2 separate regions of the Homo sapiens genome follow, and region 2 is linked to region 1. Evidence: fine-mapped expression QTL. A gene starts in region 1. The other region holds a variant in brackets. All regions are shown on one strand. Distances are between the middles of the regions.

What was found.
Region 2: its variant is fine-mapped to the expression of RUFY1 in tibial nerve (GTEx, PIP above 0.99).

What each region holds. Positions count from the first base shown.
Region 1 is chr5:179,546,781-179,555,107 of GRCh38, reverse strand. RUFY1 (RUN and FYVE domain containing 1) reads right to left here and starts at 4,554. Exons shown (of 18, transcript NM_025158.5): 1 at 4,229-4,554. The coding sequence starts at 4,538. The region is part of intron 4 of LOC128966623 (a long non-coding RNA gene); the gene reads right to left. It overlaps LOC105377762 (a long non-coding RNA gene), which reads left to right and starts at 4,604. Exons shown (of 4, transcript XR_941315.4): 1 at 4,604-5,164. RefSeq lists an enhancer at 174-674 and a silencer at 3,920-4,629.
Region 2 is chr5:179,620,772-179,629,098 of GRCh38, reverse strand. HNRNPH1 (heterogeneous nuclear ribonucleoprotein H1) reads left to right here and starts at 5,428. Exons shown (of 14, transcript NM_001257293.2): 1 at 5,428-5,504; 2 at 5,935-6,062; 3 at 7,702-7,857; 4 at 8,064-8,207. The coding sequence starts at 5,966. The region is part of intron 4 of LOC128966623 (a long non-coding RNA gene); the gene reads right to left. RefSeq lists enhancers at 3,817-4,601, 4,602-5,387, 5,137-5,431, 5,487-5,656. The variant C/T (reference allele first, on the strand shown) is at 4,826.

The DNA.
Region 1 (8,327 bases):
GTACATCCTATTGCTTGCGTGAAAACAGCCAGTGTTGAGAGAGGAAAGCACATGTGCTATGTGCGGAAACTCTCAAAGATACAATAGTACTGGGGAAAATTTCTGGGAAGGAGGATTTAGTATTTGTCCTTTTTTTTTTTTGAGACAGAATTTTGCTCGTCACCCAGGCTGGAGTGCAGTGGCGTGATCTTGGCTCACTGCAACTTCTGCCTCCTGGTTTCAAGCAATTTTCCTGCCTCAGCCTCCCGAGCAGCTGGGATTACAGGCGTGCGCCACCACGCCCATCTAATTTTTGTACTTTTAGTGGAGACGGGGTTTCACCATGTTGGCCAGGCTGGTCTCAAACTCCTGACCTCAAATGATCCGCCCGCCTCGGCCTCCCAAAGTGCTGGGATTACAGGCATGAGCCACCATGCCTGTCCGAATGTTCTTTTGTATGGTTTGATTTTTAAAAATCATGTTCGCTTATTACCTTAAAAAAAAATCCCCCAAAACCAAACAGGACACCTATGGACAATACAATCACATACCAGACCCCACATGGGAAAACTTTTCTTTTCTTTTTTTTTTTGAGACAAAGTTTTGCTCTTGTTGCCCTAGCTGAAGTGCAATGCGGCGATCTTGGCTCACAGCAACCTCCACCCCCCAGGTTCAAGAGATTCTCCTGCCTCAGCCTCCTGAATAGCTGGGATTACACGCCTACGCCACCATGCCTGGCTAATTTTGTATTTTTAGTAGAGACGGGGTTTCTCCATGTTGGTCAGGCTGGTCTCAAACTCCCAACATCAGGTGATTCACCCACCTCGGTCTTCCAAAGTGCTGGGATTACAGGCATGAGCCACTGCACCCGACCGGGACAACATTTTAAAACAAGTATTCAAAATATTCCGCAGCATTTCCTTTAGCTTCTACCATTGAAAAAATATCATCCAGCAAGAGTGCTGCTCACATTCAATCTCTGCTCCTAAACTGCTCCCTCTGAAAGTCCTGCCTGTCCTCATTGCTTGTGTAGGCAGATCAGTGGGGAAAGAGAATGAGTCAGCCTTGGGCCTGGCCCTGGCTGAAGTGGTGTCACTGTCTTTCTCCCATCCTGTTTTTCTTGTGTCGCTGCAGAGCGAGCCGCCCTTGGCCCATTTCCTTTCCCACCTCTGCTCCTGTCCTACCTGATGGCTTCAAATCCCGGTGACCTTTGGGACCAGCCTCATGGCTCTACCCAGCAGTTCCCCAAATTTCATCTCTTTGTAAGCCATGGTCACCATTTTGCTAGATTGAGTGGTAGTTATTAATACTTTCCTTAAATTGAGTTAATTATTATTTTTTGAGATAGTCTCGTTCTGTTGCCCAGGCTGGACTGCAGTGGAATGGTCTCGGCTCACTGCAAACTCCGCCTCTTATGTTCAAGCAATTCTCCTGCCTCAGCCTCCTGAGTAGCTGGGATTACAGGTGCGTACCACCAAGCCCGGCTAATTTTTGTACTTTTTTTTTTAGTAGAGATAGGGTTTCACCATGTTGGCCAGGTTGGTCTCGAACTCCTGACCTCAGGTGATCTGCCTGCCTCGGCCTCCCAAAATGCTGGGATTACAGGTGTGAGCCACCATGCCCGGCCTAGTTTTTTAAATCCATATGGGATATATATATAGACATTTTGCAGTTGGTGAAGTTACTTCTCTTTAATACTCTCTTTATAAAATAGGGATAATAATGGTACTCATCACCCTGTGCCATCTACATGATTTACAAGGCCCAGTGCAAAATTCCCGGCCTGGAGCAGAGCACAGAAGTCAGACTCCCCCTTACTACAGCCCTAATGGATTGCAACTTCCCTGCAGGGATGGGACAGGTGAGAGGCCCCTGCCCACTTGCCTGCCTAATGTGCTGTGGTACCAGCCACCCTGCCCTGAGATTCGGAGGGTGCAATCCCAACGCTGCCTGGGCAAGAGTGGGATCAGGGAGGGTAGGGAGAAGCCCCAGGGCAGCTCGAGTGGGCCAGGGCAACTGAGAACCTGTCCCATTGGACTTCACTTAAAAAACACAAATTCAAAGATAAAATTAAGAATTTCAAGCATGGGATACTTCTGAGTGCCTGGCCCTTTCCACCAGAGTGATCAAAGCCTGCATTGACTGTCCACCCATGAAGCTAGTCCTGCTATCACATAGGGTTGTTGTGAGGAATGAATGAATACTTGTACAGGTTTAAGACTAATGCCTGGCACCTTTGAAGGACAATATAAGTGTTGGCTATTGTTTCTATCACTTCCATAGATGGAACACAGGTATTTTTCAAATATGCATTTGTTCAGCAAACACTTATTATTCTGTGCCAGGTACTGACACATTTCATTTTATCTTTTTAATTTTTTCCTTGATTCTGCATTAAAGGAAAGAAATTCTAGCAGGGAAGAACTTTTATTATTTGCTTACTCCTGCCACGAAATATCTAAGAGGCCTCCAGGAGACGCCATGCCTTGACTTTCAGTACTGACTGTCAATGAGTATGCAACTCAGCATCCACTGATGTGTGGAAAAGTCTCGGGAAAAGGTGTCAAGCTAGAGGGCAGTAGATTCCCGGCCTGCCCAGGCTCTCATCATCCTCTAATGCTATTTTCCACTGCCAGGATCTCAAAACGAGTCAGCCTTTCAACTTTACTCAGTAATTATTCTTGACCACTGAAAATCTCACAATTCACTACCTGGGGTCAGTGCATCTACAGCAAAGGTACCAGTGGATGGGGAGGAATCAGGAAGCCTCGAGTGTGTGCTATGATGCTCCTTGGAAGGCACCACAACCTTTCCTCAGCTCTGTCCCAGCATTTTCTATGAAGTTGGCAATGTTCTATTATGTGCTATCTCATACAGTAGCCACTGGCCACACACAGGCTACTGAGCATTTAAAATGTGGCCGCTGTAATCGAGGAACAAGTTTTTTTTTTTTTTTTTTTTTTTGAGACAGAGTCTCGCTCTGTCACCCAGGCTGGAGTGCAGTGGCGCGATCTCGGCTCACTGCAACCTCTGCCTCCCAGGTTCAAGCGATTCTCCTGCCTCAGCCTCCTGAGTAGCTGGGACTACAGGTGCATGCCAACACACCCAGCTAATTTTTTGTATTTTTAGTAGAGACGGGGTTTCACCATGTTGGCCAGGATGGTCTCGATCTCTTGACCTCGTGATCCACCCGCTTCGGCCTCCCAAAGTGCTGGGATTACAGGCGTGAGCCACCGCTCCCGGCCGAGGAACTCAATTTTTAATTCAATTTAAAAGTACTGAATTTCAATTGATTCAGTTAGAAATTGAGGAATCCGGCCGGGCGCGGTGGCTCAAGCCTGTAGTCCCAGTACTTTACGAGGCCGAGGCAGGTGTATCACAAGGTCAGGAGTTCAAGACCAGCCTGGCCAAGATGGTGAAACCCCGTTTCTACTAAAAATATGGGAGGGGGGTGGGGGCGGGGAACTTAGCCGAGCGTGGTGGTGGGCACCTGTAATCCCAGCTACTCGGGAGGCTGAGGCGGGAGGGAGGATCGCTTGAACCCGGGAGGCAGAGGGTGCAGTGAGCCGAGATCGCACCACTGCACTCCAGCCTGGGCGACAGAGCAAGACCCGGTCTCAAAAAAATAAAAATAAATAAAAACAAAAACACACACACAAAAACATATGCGTGCTGTTGTATTGGATAGCACAGCTCTGGATGTCTGGCGTTAGAGGGCTAAGTTACTTAACTCTTACTATCACTGATATGCTGGCACTCTGTTCATTACAAGGGCTGAAAAGGTCTTTAAGAGATCATCGGGTGACTTTAAAATCCCCATCTCACAGGCAGAGGTGAGCGGAGGCGCCGCTGGTCCGCTGCGCGCAGGGCCCACGCCCTCCCAACACCCGCCGGCGCTCCACTCCCGCACTGAACGGCTGAAAAGCAGAACAGTGCTGGCTCCGTTTCGTGTGTGGAGTTACTACAGAGTTCCGAAGCCCGGACGCGCACACGTCCTTCACCTAGTTAGTGGGAGAGCATAGAGGCGCGGGTGCGGGAGCGCGCTCAGGCACGCGGGGCTGCGGGGGGCGGTCTCGGCTGGGCCGCCGGAGTAAAGACCCAGGCGCAGCCAGGCGCCGCCCGCCCGCCAACAGCTCGCGTAACCTCCCGGAACGGCCAGTGCCCTCCCAGCCCGGCCCCCACCGCGCCCGCGCCGGCGGCCAGCGGGGACACGCGAGTCCGCCGCGGGACAGACCCGGCCCGAGCCTACCTGCGCGCGCCGTGCCGTCCCCGCTGTCCCCGCCGCCCAGCCCCGCGGCCGCGCGCAGCGCGCTCCCGCAGCTCGCCGACAGGTTCCCGGTGGCCCTGCGTGCCAGGGTCAGGATGGGCGCCGACCAGCCCTCGGCCGCCCGCGGCCTCGTTGCGCTCCGCAGGTCGCCTGGGCCGGGCAGCTGGCTTCGGTCCACGATCTCAAACTCTTCTCCCGGCTCAAGCGCTGACCCGGGCCCCGGCCCCGGCTCCAGCTCCGGCTCCAGCTCCCGCCCCCGCCCAGCAGCGCAGCCGCCTTCCCGGTCGGCCATCTTGGCCGTGTCATGTGACCCAGCGGGCGGGCGGGCGCGGGGTGGGGGCGGGCGGGCATCGCCTTTGCCTTAGGTGGGGGAGATTTTTCTCCCTCTTCACCGCCTCGCCTTCCCTCTGTTTCGAAAGGTTCGGGAAAGTCCAAGTCATAACATAAAAAGTGTGCGTATTCCCGGCCGCCGGCAGGACCTGTTCGCGGGGAAGTTCCTCTTGAACTTTCTCCGAGGACAGTTGTGCACCCTGCCCGGCGCTTCACGGGGTTCCCTGGCCGTCGTTGTCTTTGTGACACCATTTCCTCTTTTAAATTTTCATTTCATGGTCTATATTTTCCACTTCGTCATTTTTCTGTAGCACTCATTAGAACAAGCCCCGAAAGGGCGACTAAGGAAACGCACAGGCGAGGCAGGAAAGCAGGAATTTTTTTTTTTTTTTAATCTAATGACTATGACGGCTTGGCAAGAAAGAGTGCACGATAGTGGACTGGAAATCAGAGGTGGCTTCTCCTATTGATTAGTTAAGTGGGATAACAAAAACCGACCTCATTATTAAATAAGATTTGCAGTAAGGACCACATGGCAGATGTTAGCGATTGTGACTACTATCTCTGGTATCCAACTGTGTGGCCTGGGTAAGTCACTATACACTCAGTCTGTTTCTTCACTTGGAAAAGAAAGGAATTTGAGTAAGTACAAAGGAAAATTTTGGCCGGGCGCGGTGGCTCACGCCTGTAATCCCAGCACTTCGGAAGGCCCAGGCGGGCCTTTAGTAGGACGAAACCCCGTCTCTACTAAAATACCAAAACAACAACAACAACAACAACAAAAAACCAGCCAGATGTCGTGGCGGGACAGCTCTACTCCTAGCTCCTTGGGGGGCTGAGAGTGGGAGGATCGCTTGAGCCCGGGAGGTCGATCCCACAGTGAGCGGAGATCATGGCCACTGCACTCCAGGCTGGGCGACAAAGTGAGACCCTGTCTCAGAAAAAACACTAAAATTTACTAGCACTTAACACTTTGCAAAGTGAGGCAACATGAGCCACACCAAACCAGCAGAGCTGTTTTGATTCCCAGAATGTTTACAAATCTTAAAACTTGTTGCCAATATTTAGAAATCAAAAGATTTCACATAAGAATCTGGATTTTAGCTTTCTCTGGAATCACTGGAATATTTGGTAACTCATGGCATATTCCCAGATGGCAACAAACTGTTGGGAATAAACTGTGCTGCCCCTTTAGACGCCCAGCTGCTCCCTGGACCTGTCTTGGTCCAGCCCACTTCACTAGGTTGCATGATATGTCTGGTCCCTGAAAGGCCAGTTCTCAGTGAAGGGATACCACTTCATCTAGGAGTGTTTTGGGAATTTGTGGAGTTGGTGTTTGAGTTGTGTAATGACTGAGGGCATACTACCAGTCTTTTTTGTTTGTTTGTTTTCGTACGGAGTCTCGCTCAGTCGCCCAGGCTGGAGTGCAGTGGCGCGATCTCGGTTCACTGCAAGCTCCACCTCCCGGGTTCACGCCATTCTCCTGCCTCAGCCTCCCGAGTAGCTGGGACTACAGGTGCCCGCCACCACGCCCGGCTAATTTTTTTTTTTTTTTGTATTTTTAGTAGAAACGGGGTTTCACCGTGTTAGCCAGGATGGTCTTGATCTCCTGACCTCGTGATCCGCCAGCCTCGGCCTCCCAAAGTGCTGGGATTAGAGGCGTGAGCCACCACGCCCGGCCTGGTCTTGTTTGTTTGTTTGTTTTTGAGGCCAAGTCCTGCTCTGTCACCAAGCTGGAGTGCAGTGGCGCAATCTCGGCTCACTGTAACCTCTGCCTACCGGGTTCAAGCGATTTTCCTGCCTCAGCCTCCCAAGTAGCTGGGACTGCAGGGGCGTGGCGCCACACTTGGCTAATTTTTGTACTTTTAGTAGAGACGGGGTTTCACCATGTTCGCCAGGATAGTCTCGATCTCTCGACCTCGTGATTCCCCCGCCTCGGCCTCTCAAAGTGTTGAGATTACAGGCGTGAGCCACTGAGCCCGGCCCTACTAGTCTTTACTGGATGCATAGACAGGGATGAAGATAGTCTAGAATAACAGCATTGTCCCGAATCCTTCATGACTTTCCAATGCTACTGGACATTTATGTAGGTGAAAAGTTTGTTTATAATGATCAGGGCGTGGAACCGAATTCCATTTTGTATAAAAACATTAACTCTTTTTTGGGGGAACAGTTTCAACATTTATCAGGCAAGGTTATTCTTCAGTAACAACCCCCAAATCTCAATGGCTTAACCTAAAAGCTGGTTTCTCATCATGCTACATGTCAATGTAGATGGGGTGAGTACTCTGCCCAACTCATTGTAGTCTCTCAGGACCCAGCCTGTTGGGAGTTTTGCATAAATATTACATGCTCCAGTCCTGCATGACAAAGGTCACTTATGCACATTTCATTGGTGAAAGCAAATCACATGGCCACGTTTAATTTCTAGGGAGTTGGGAAGTTCAGACCTATTTCTGTCTGGGAAAACCACAACTGGGAATCTTTGTGAGCAGTGTAATGACTACCATAAGTGTACCCTAAATTTTCCTGGAACGTAGCTAAATTGATTTGTTCAGAATTACACGTGCAAATGTCTATGTTATTTCAGTGGTAGTTGTGCCTCGTTTACATATTGAAATATATCTCATTTTATAGTGCTTCGCTTTATTGCTTTTTTAACAAATTAAAGTTTTTGGCAGCCGGGCACGGTGGCTCACGCCTGTAATCCCAGCACTCTGGGAGGCACAGGTGGGTGGATCACCTGAGATCAGGAGTTCGTGACCAGCGTGGCCGACATGGCGAAACCCCGTCTCTACTAAAAACACAAAAATTAGCCAGGCGTGGTGGTGGGAGCCTATAATCCCAGCTACTCTGGAGGCTGAGGCAGGAGAATCGCTTGAACCTGGGAGGCAGAGGTTGCAGTGAGCCGAGATCGAACCACTGCACTCCAGCCTGGGCGACAAGTGCAAAAAAAACTGCGTCTCAAAAAAAGAAAAAGTTGCTGTTGGCAACCCAACAGCACGTGCTTATTTTGTGCCTCTGTTTCACATTTTCGTAATTCTCAAAATATTCTAAACTTTTAAACTACCCTTACATCTGTTATATGATTTGTGATCTGTGATCTTTGGTGTTACTATTATTAATTGTTTTGGGGCACCACAAACTGCACCCATATAAGATGGTAAACTTAATTGATAAATGTTGTATGTGTTCTTACTGCTCCACCAACCACGTGTTTCCTTCTCCCTTACCCTCTCCTCGGGCCTCCCTGTGCCCTGAGACACAATATTGAAATTAGGCCAATTAGGCCGTGGCTCAAACCTGTAATCCCTGCACTTTGGGAGTCTAAGGTGGGCAGATCACTTGCGATCAGGAGTTCCAGGCCAACATGGTGAAACCCTGTCTCTACTAAAAATACAAAATTAGCTGGGTGTGGTGGCAGGCACCTGTAATACCAGCTACTGGGGAGGCTGAGGCACGAGAATTGCTTGAACCTGGGAGGCGGAGGTTGCAGTGAGCTAAGATTGCATCACTGCACTCCAGCCTGGGCGATAGAGTGAAACTCCATCTCCAACCAAAAAAAAGAAAAGAAAAAGGAAAAGAAATTAGGCCAATTAATAACCGTACAATGGCCTCTGAGTGTTCAGGTAAAAGGAAGAGTTGCATGTCTCTCTCTTTATATCAAAAGCTAGAAATGATTAAGCTTAATGAGGTAGGCACGTCAAAAGCCGTGATGGGCCAAAAGCTTGGCCTCTTGCACACAGTTAGC
Region 2 (8,327 bases), 74 kb before region 1:
GTCTCGATCTGCTGACCTTGTGATCTGCCCACCTCGGCCTCCCAAAGTGCTGGGATTACAGGCGTGAGCCGCCGCGCCCAGCCGGGTTATTTATGATTGCATTTATTTTCTTTTCTTTGAGGCACAGTCTCGCTCTGTCACCTAGGCTGGAGTGCAGTGGTGTGATCTTGGCTCACTGCAACCTCTGTCTCTGGGGTTCAAGCCATCCTCCCACCTCACACTCCTGTGTAGCTGGGATTACAGACGTATGCCACCACACCCGGTTAATTTATCTTTTTTCCTACACTTGATCTTTGCCAAAAGGATGAGATGTGATAATGTAGTAGAGACGGGGTTTCACCGTGTTGGCCAGGTTAGTCTGGAACTCTTGACTTCAAGTGATCAGCCCACCATGGCCTCCCAGAGAGCTAGGAGTACAGGGTGAGCCACCATGCCCAGCTGATATCATTGGTTTTAAAACACATTCCTGGCCAGGTGCGGTGGCTCATGCGTGTAATCCCAGCAATTTGGGAGGCTGAGGTGGGTGGATCACCTGAGGTCAACATGGCAAAACCCGGTCTCTACTAAAAACACAAAAATTAGCTGGGTGTGGTGGCAGGCACCTGTAAACCCAGCTACTCTGGAGGCTGAGGTAGGAGAATCGCTTGAATCTGGGAGGTGGAGGTTGCAGTAAGCCGAGATCATGCCATTGCATTCCAGCCTGGGTGACAGAGCAAGACTCCATCTAAAATAAATAAATAAATACAAATTTTTAAAAAAGCAGAAGAAAATAAATAAAACACATTCCTATCTTATTGAGGCTAAGCTGTACAAAATGTGTCTTACAAATGATACTAAAGATAACAAATATGTGCTCAATCTCTGGATGGGAAAGGGCTTTCTAAACTTAAAGACAAACCTCAAAGGAACATATCCATGGCTTTGACATCAAGAAATTTAAAACTTCTATATGTCCAAATATTAAAAAGCAATCATAGGCCGGGTGCAGTGGCTCACACCTGTAATCACAGCACTTTGGGAGGCTAAGGTGGATGGATCACTTGAGGTTCGGAGTTCCAGATCAACCTGGCCAACATGGTGAAACCCCATCTCTACTAAAAATACAAAAATTAGCCGGGTGTGATGGTGCATGCCTGTAATCACAGCTATTTGGTATTTTTTTCCTTTTTTTTTTTTTGCAATGGAATCTCCCTCTGTTGCCCAGGCTGGAGTACAGTGGCAGGATCTCTGCTCACTGCAACCTCCACATCCTGGGTTCAAGTGATTCTCCTGCCTCAGCCTCCCAAGTAGCTGGGATTACAGGCGCCCACCACCATGCCCGGCTAATTTTTGTATTTTTGGTAGAGACAGGGTTTCACCATGTTGGCCAACATGTCTGAAACTCCTGACATCAAGTTATCCACCCACCTCAGCCTCCCAAAGTGCTGGGATTACAAGTGTGAGCCATTGCACCTGGCATATCCCAGCAATTTGGGAGATTGAGGCACAAGAATTGCTTGAACCCGGGAGGTGGAGGTTGCAGTGAGCCGAGATCACATACCTGCACTCCAACCTGAGTGACGAAGTGAGACCCTGTCTTAAAAAAAAAAAAGGCATAAATCAGGGCCGAGCATCATGGCTCACATGTAGAATAATCCCAGGGCTTTGAGAGGCCAAGGTGGGAGAATTGCTTGACGCCAGGAATTCAAGACTAGCCTGGGCAACATAGTGAGACCCCCATCACTACAAAAAAAAAAAAAATTAGTCGGGCCTGGTTGAAAGTGCCTTTAGTCCCAGCTACTCAGGAGGCTGAGCTTGGAGGATGGCTTGAGCCCAGGAGTTCAAGGCTGCAGTGAGTTATGATTGTGTCACTGCACGGAACAAGACATTGTCTGTAAAACAAACAAAAAATACCACCACAAAACCACAAAAATAATTAAAAGGTAAGCAAACTGAGAAGAATGTCTGGGGCAACTATCCTAAGGGCTAACAGCCTTAATAAAGAGCTCTGTAAACTGTAAGAAGTATACGAAGACATTAGCCGGGCGCAGTGGCTCACACCTATAATCCCAGCACTTTGGGAGCCCGAGGTGGGCGGATCATGAGGTTAGGAGATCGAGACCATCCTGGCTAACACGGTGAAACCCCGTCTCTAGTAAAAATACAAGAAAATTAGCTGGGCGTGGTGGCGGGCGCCTGTCGTCCCAGCTACTCTACTCGGGAGGCTGAGGCAGGAGAATGGTGTGAACCTGGGAGGCGGAGCTTGCAGTGAGCGGAGATCGCGCCATTGTACTCCAGCCTGGGCGACAGAGCGAGACTCCGTCTCAAAAAAAAAAAAAAAAAGAAGTATACCAAGACATAAAGACCACTGAGGCAAGATGATGAATTTTTTTTTTTTTTTTTAAAGACAGAGTCCTGCTCTGTTGCCCAGGCAGGAGTGCAGTGGTGCAATCTCTGCTCACTGCAACCTCCACCTCCCAGGTTCAAGTGATTCTCCTGCCTCAGCCTCCTGAGTAGCTGGGATTACAGGCACGCGACACCATGCCCGGCTACTTTTTGTATTTTTAGTAGAGACGGGGTTTCACCATGTTGGTCAGGCTGGTCTCTAACTCCTGAACTCTTGATCCACCTGCCTCGGCCTCCCAAAGTGCTGGGATTACAGGCATGAGCCCCACGCGTGGGCTGATGATTAACTTTTTATTTAAAAAAACCTTTGGCCGAGCATGGTGGCTCATGCTTGTAATCTCAGTACTTTGGGAGGCCGAGGCAGGCAGATCACTTGAGGTCAGGAGTTCCAGACCAGCCTGGCCAACATGGCAAAACCCCATCTCAACTAAAACTTAAAAAAAAGTAGCCAGGTGTGGTGGCACACACCTGTAATCCCTCTACTTGGGAGGCTAAGGCATGAGAATTGCTTGAACCTAGGAGGCAGAGGTTGCAGTGAGCCAAGATTGCACCACTGTACTCCAGCCTGGGTGACAGAGTTAGACTGTCTCAAAAACAAAACCAAACAAAAAAACCTTTCATTGCCAGCCATGGTGGCTCACACCTGTAATCCCAGCACTTTCTCTGCGAGGCTGAGGTGGAATGATTCCTTGAGCCCAAGAATTCAAGACCAGCCTGGGCAACAAAATGAGACCCCATTGCTACAAAAAATAAATAAATAAATAAATAAATAAATAAATAATCTGAGCAAGGTGGCACATGCCTGTGGTCCTACCTACTCAGGAGGCTGAGGCAGGAGGATTGTTTGAGCCCAGAAGGTAGAGGCTGTGGTGAGCCATGTTTGCACCACTGCACTCCAGCCTGGGTGACGGGCTGTGTCTCAAACAAACAAATAAAAAATAAAAATTTAAAAACCTTGTTTTAATATAAGTTGGACAATTTATATATAAGAGAATTGGCTATAAGTGTATGAAATGTATTCTACCTTACTACTATTCTTTTTTTTTTTTTTTTTGAGACGGAGTTTTGCTCTTATTGCCCAGGCTGGAGTGCAATGGCGTGATCTCAGCTGACTGCAACTGCTGCCTCCTGGGTTTAAGTGATTCTCCTGCCTCAGTCTTGCCAAGTGGTTGGGATTACAGGCATGCATCACCATGCCTGGCTAATTTTTTTTTTTTTTTTTTTTTGAGAGGGAGTCTTTGTAGCCCAGGCTGGAGGGCAGTGGTGTGATCTCAGCTCACTGCTTCCTCTGCCTCCTGGGTTCAGGTGATTCTCCTGCCTCAGCCTCCAGAGTAGCTGGGATTACAGGCGTGTGCATGCATAGATAATTTTTGTATCTTTAGTAGAGATGGGGTTTCACCATGTTGGCCAAGCTGGTCTGAAACTCCTGATCTCAAGTGATCTGCCTGCCTCGGCCTCCCAAAATGCTGGTATTACACGAGTGAGCCACCGCACCTGGCCGGACTCTCTTCTTGATTACCTCAGCCAAAGTGCCTTCTGAAATGGTACCACAGGTGTGTGCTTCTAGTTCAGTTTGTAGTAGAGGGCCTGGTATGTACCGTCATTCACCCTGCCTGCTCCATCTGCATCCCCCTCACATCCAGCAAGAGTTTTCCTTTACACAGGGTTTACGGCTCCCCTGCTGATCACCTGCCAAAGCCTTCTCTCGGAGATAACACCCTTGCCAAGGCCTAAGTGGCCTTTGAAGATCAGGCCCTGCTTAGCTCTGGGCTCCTGTCTTTCTTTTGATGTCCTCTCTACTTTTTCTCAAACCTGTCAAAACTGGATTCGGACTCTGTGGCACTGGGGTTGGAAACATGCTTTGTCCGCATCTTCCCAGGGTGGCACTCAGGCTTGCACTAGCTAAGGTAGCTCTGCGGCAGGGTCCAGCACTACCTTATTGTTAATTTGTGTATTGTCTGTGTCCACTAAAGCTGGGGTGAGGAAGGCAGCCAAATCAGACATGGGGAGGCCTGGGAGGCTACGGCATCTTAGGTTTTGGGCAGTGCTGCTAGAAACCACGAACATTAGTCATCTCGCAGCATGTGTGCACATGGGGTGACCCGGGGGCCTCCTCGAATGCAGCGTCTACGCCTGGTGAATGGACGCACTCTTACCAATTCTGCTCTGGGAGATGCAGCGGTAACCTACCGAGCGCAGAGGCCGGCGCGCACCCGTGGAGCCCGCGCTCGCGATCCCTCCTCGTGCCAGGGCCCCAGGGCAGTCAAGGCCTGCCGACCGTTAGGCGGGTCAAGGGGTACACAGGGTGCGAATTCGTTAGGCAAAAGCTGGGTACAGGCGCGAGCCACAGGCACGGAAACCTCGCGCCGACCGGGGCCCTAGGCCCGACGACGGCAGGTAAGGGGAAGTGGAGGCACACAGGGCTGGGACGTGCCCCAGG[C/T]ACCATACGGGTGGCTTCGGGCGCGGGACGTCCGCAGCCCCGCAGCTCCCAGGACGTTCGACAATCTGCAGCTGACCAGCTTCGGCCGGTTTGGGGATAAAGGGAAGACAGGCGGCGCGGGGAGTGGGAACGCCTGAAGGCCGCGCCCCTCCTTTCAGGTCGGCCAGGAGCGCGCCGGTAAGAGCCTGGGGGCAAGGGGTAGAAAGACGCCCACCTCATCACAACCCAGAGCTCGGGACTCCTATACAGTCCCATAGGGAACAGGCGGCCGCCATTCCCCTCCCCCACGCTGGCGGGTAAGGCTAGAGAACGGTTTCAAGGAAGACGCATGCGCATGAAATAATTATAAACCGCTAGGACTCCGAAGTTCAATATTCGCGGGAAGGCGCAGGCGCAACAAAAAGCCCGGCGGGTTTATGGGTGGGGGTGCTGAGCCCAAAACCCAAGCGTGTAATAATCCGCCGGCGGGAGGTGGGCTGGCTCTTGAAATTACGCATGCGCCAGAGCTCTTTGTGACGCAACGGGGCGGTGCGGGCAGCTGGCTGCGCGTGCGCAGAACTCGCACAAGGGACCTTATTTAGGTTGCGCAGGCGCCCGCTGGCCATTTCGTCTTAGCCACGCAGAAGTCGCGTGTCTAGGTGAGTCGCGGTGGGTCCTCGCTTGCAGTTCAGCGACCACGGTGGGTACCGTTTTTGCGAGGATTGTTTGTCCCCATATCTCTGGGAGGGCCACGGGGACCTTGGCGAGCTGCAGGCTGCCGTCGAGAGCCGCGAGTGGTTCGCTGAATCTCGGCACCGCCGCTGAGGCCTGCAGGCCGCGCCGACTCTATTGTGTGAGAAGTCGGAGGAGGCGGAGCGGAAGCGGCCGCCGCCATTTCCTTTCCTCTACGCTGGCTCTCGGCCCGGGCCCCCACGGTTCGGGGCGCCGACAGCTGTTGCTCAGGACAGCTTTGGGGGTCCGGTCGCCGGACGAGGAGGTGTTGGAGTCGCCGGGGTGGGTGCATCCGCCCGGTTTTTGCTCCGTGGGGGGGCGGTGCGGGCCCGGGCGCGCCTCGGAGGCGAAGGACAGCTTAATTGGCGCTCTCAGTTCTGGTCCTCCCCGCTTTGCAGTTTGTTTCGACGCCGGACCGCGTAAGAGACGATGATGTTGGGCACGGAAGGTGGAGAGGGATTCGTGGTGAAGGTCCGGGGCTTGCCCTGGTCTTGCTCGGCCGATGAAGTGCAGAGGTTTTTTTCTGGTGAGTTAGAACTAGGACGCGGGAGTTCGAGTTCGAGGCCGGGGCGGGCGGGCTGGCGGGCGGCCGGGCTGGGGCGGGGCGGGGCGGGGCGGGCCGGGCCGGGCCGGGCCGGGTGGGACCCGGGGCGCCCCCTGGCGAGGCGCGGGCGACTACACTCACCGCTGTGCTGCTCGCGCCCGGCGGCCCGCTGTTACGCAATGGAAATTTCGAAAGCCCCGCCCGTCCTCCTGGCCCTTGGGGGAGTGCGGCAGGTTTGGCAGACTTTGTTTTCTTTACCTATCTTTGAACACCAGCTTTTCTTTTATGGGTGTCTTTTTTTCTTTTTCTTTTGAGTTGGAGTCTCTGTCACCCAAGCTGGAGTGCAGTGGCGCGTTCTCGGCTCACTGCAACCTCCGCCTCCTGGGTTCAAGCGATTCTCCTGCCTCAGTCTCCCGAGTGTCTGGGACTAGAGGCGCGCACCGCCACGCCCGGCTAATTTTTGTATTTTTAGTAGAGACGGGGTTTCACTATTTTGGCCAGGCTGGTCTCGAACATCTGACCTCAAGTGATCCGCCCACCTCGGTTTCCCAAAATGCTGGGATTACAGGCGTGAGCCACCGCGCCTGGCCCGGGTGTCTTTTTTCGAAAGGATAAATTGGCATAGGTGGGATTTCCTCCTCAATCTTGAGAAAATGGCCGAGTGATTAGACAAATAATAGTAATGTTTTGCAATATCTTGAAGTGTAACCTCTTGTTTCCAGTTTTGGTGTTTTCTTAAAAAGGAGCATTCTTCGGAAAGTTAAAATGTCACGTCTTAATTTCAGTTTTCCTAATCAAGATTTGATAATTGAAGAGTGTTTTCTTATCTAGTTCTTAATCTGGCTCACTATACAGTTGAAGACACTGAAGCCCAGGGAAGTGTTTTTGCAGTACATAGGTTTCCTGAATATTTTCTATCAGAATGTCCTTGTTCCTATTATTAGACTGGGAAAAAGAAATTAGACTGATTAAAATTCTATTTGGATGAAATTAACAGCTTTTGGCAAGACGTTTGTAGTATTGACTTACTATCTGAATTTAGCGTTGGTAACGGAAAGCGACCTGTAAAACAAGAACCAAGTACGCTGGAAGCCGCCTTGCAGGGGGCAACACTGGGTTTGGCTTCAGCTGTGCAACTTGGAGCATTTTAGCTTGGTAACACTGATCCCCTTTCAGGTGAGTATTGGGCTTGTAATTTGAATTTGAATGAGAAACCGTAATGTGGCTACTGGTAAGGTAAAACGGATAAATGCCCCAGACCAAAACAGCTCGCAACGAAGTATGTTTGCCGTAAAGTCACACAGTCCAGGCTTGATAATCTTCTGAGAAATTGATAAAAGATGTGTGATGTAGACATGAGTAGCAAGGACTAAAGAGATAAATTCATTCTGAAACTGCTTTGAATATTGTATGTTGTTGATGGGTTGGAAATATATCACCTTAGGAATGAGTTTGTTTTTTTTTAATTGGAGTTTTAGGAGTTGGTAATATCGTGGTCAGTATATATAGGCTTCACAAGTTATGTAATTTGTAGTGGGGACATGGAATAGACATTTCATCTGTGTCACCCAGAGGTGGTTTTAGGTTTTAAATTCTGTATTAACGGTTGTTTTCTTTCCAGACTGCAAAATTCAAAATGGGGCTCAAGGTATTCGTTTCATCTACACCAGAGAAGGCAGACCAAGTGGCGAGGCTTTTGTTGAACTTGAATCAGAAGATGAAGTCAAATTGGCCCTGAAAAAAGACAGAGAAACTATGGGACACAGATATGTTGAAGGTTTGATTTACATTGCCCTAGTTACAGTAAATAAAGCATTAAACAATAGAGGTCTCACCCCTTCTGAATTTTAGGTATTTGACTGCATGGAAATGGTCATCTAAGGGAGTTTGTGGCAGCTCTTCCTAGCTTATCTAAAGACCCAGGAAGTCTGAACTTTGTTATCTAATTTTCCAAAAGTGACTAATTCTAAGCACCTCTTTCAGTATTCAAGTCAAACAACGTTGAAATGGATTGGGTGTTGAAGCATACTGGTCCAAATAGTCCTGACACGGCCAATGATGGCTTTGTACGGCTTAGAGGACTTCCCTTTGGATGTAGCAAGGAAGAAATTGTTCAGTTCTTCTCAGGTATGTAGTCATGTTTGTTGCTGAGCAGTGAGTTTTGGCTAGCTTATGGCAAGGTGATTTAATAGACGTTAAAGTTGAGTAGCTTAGGTATTTCAGTAGGTTGTAAATTGCCAATGAATT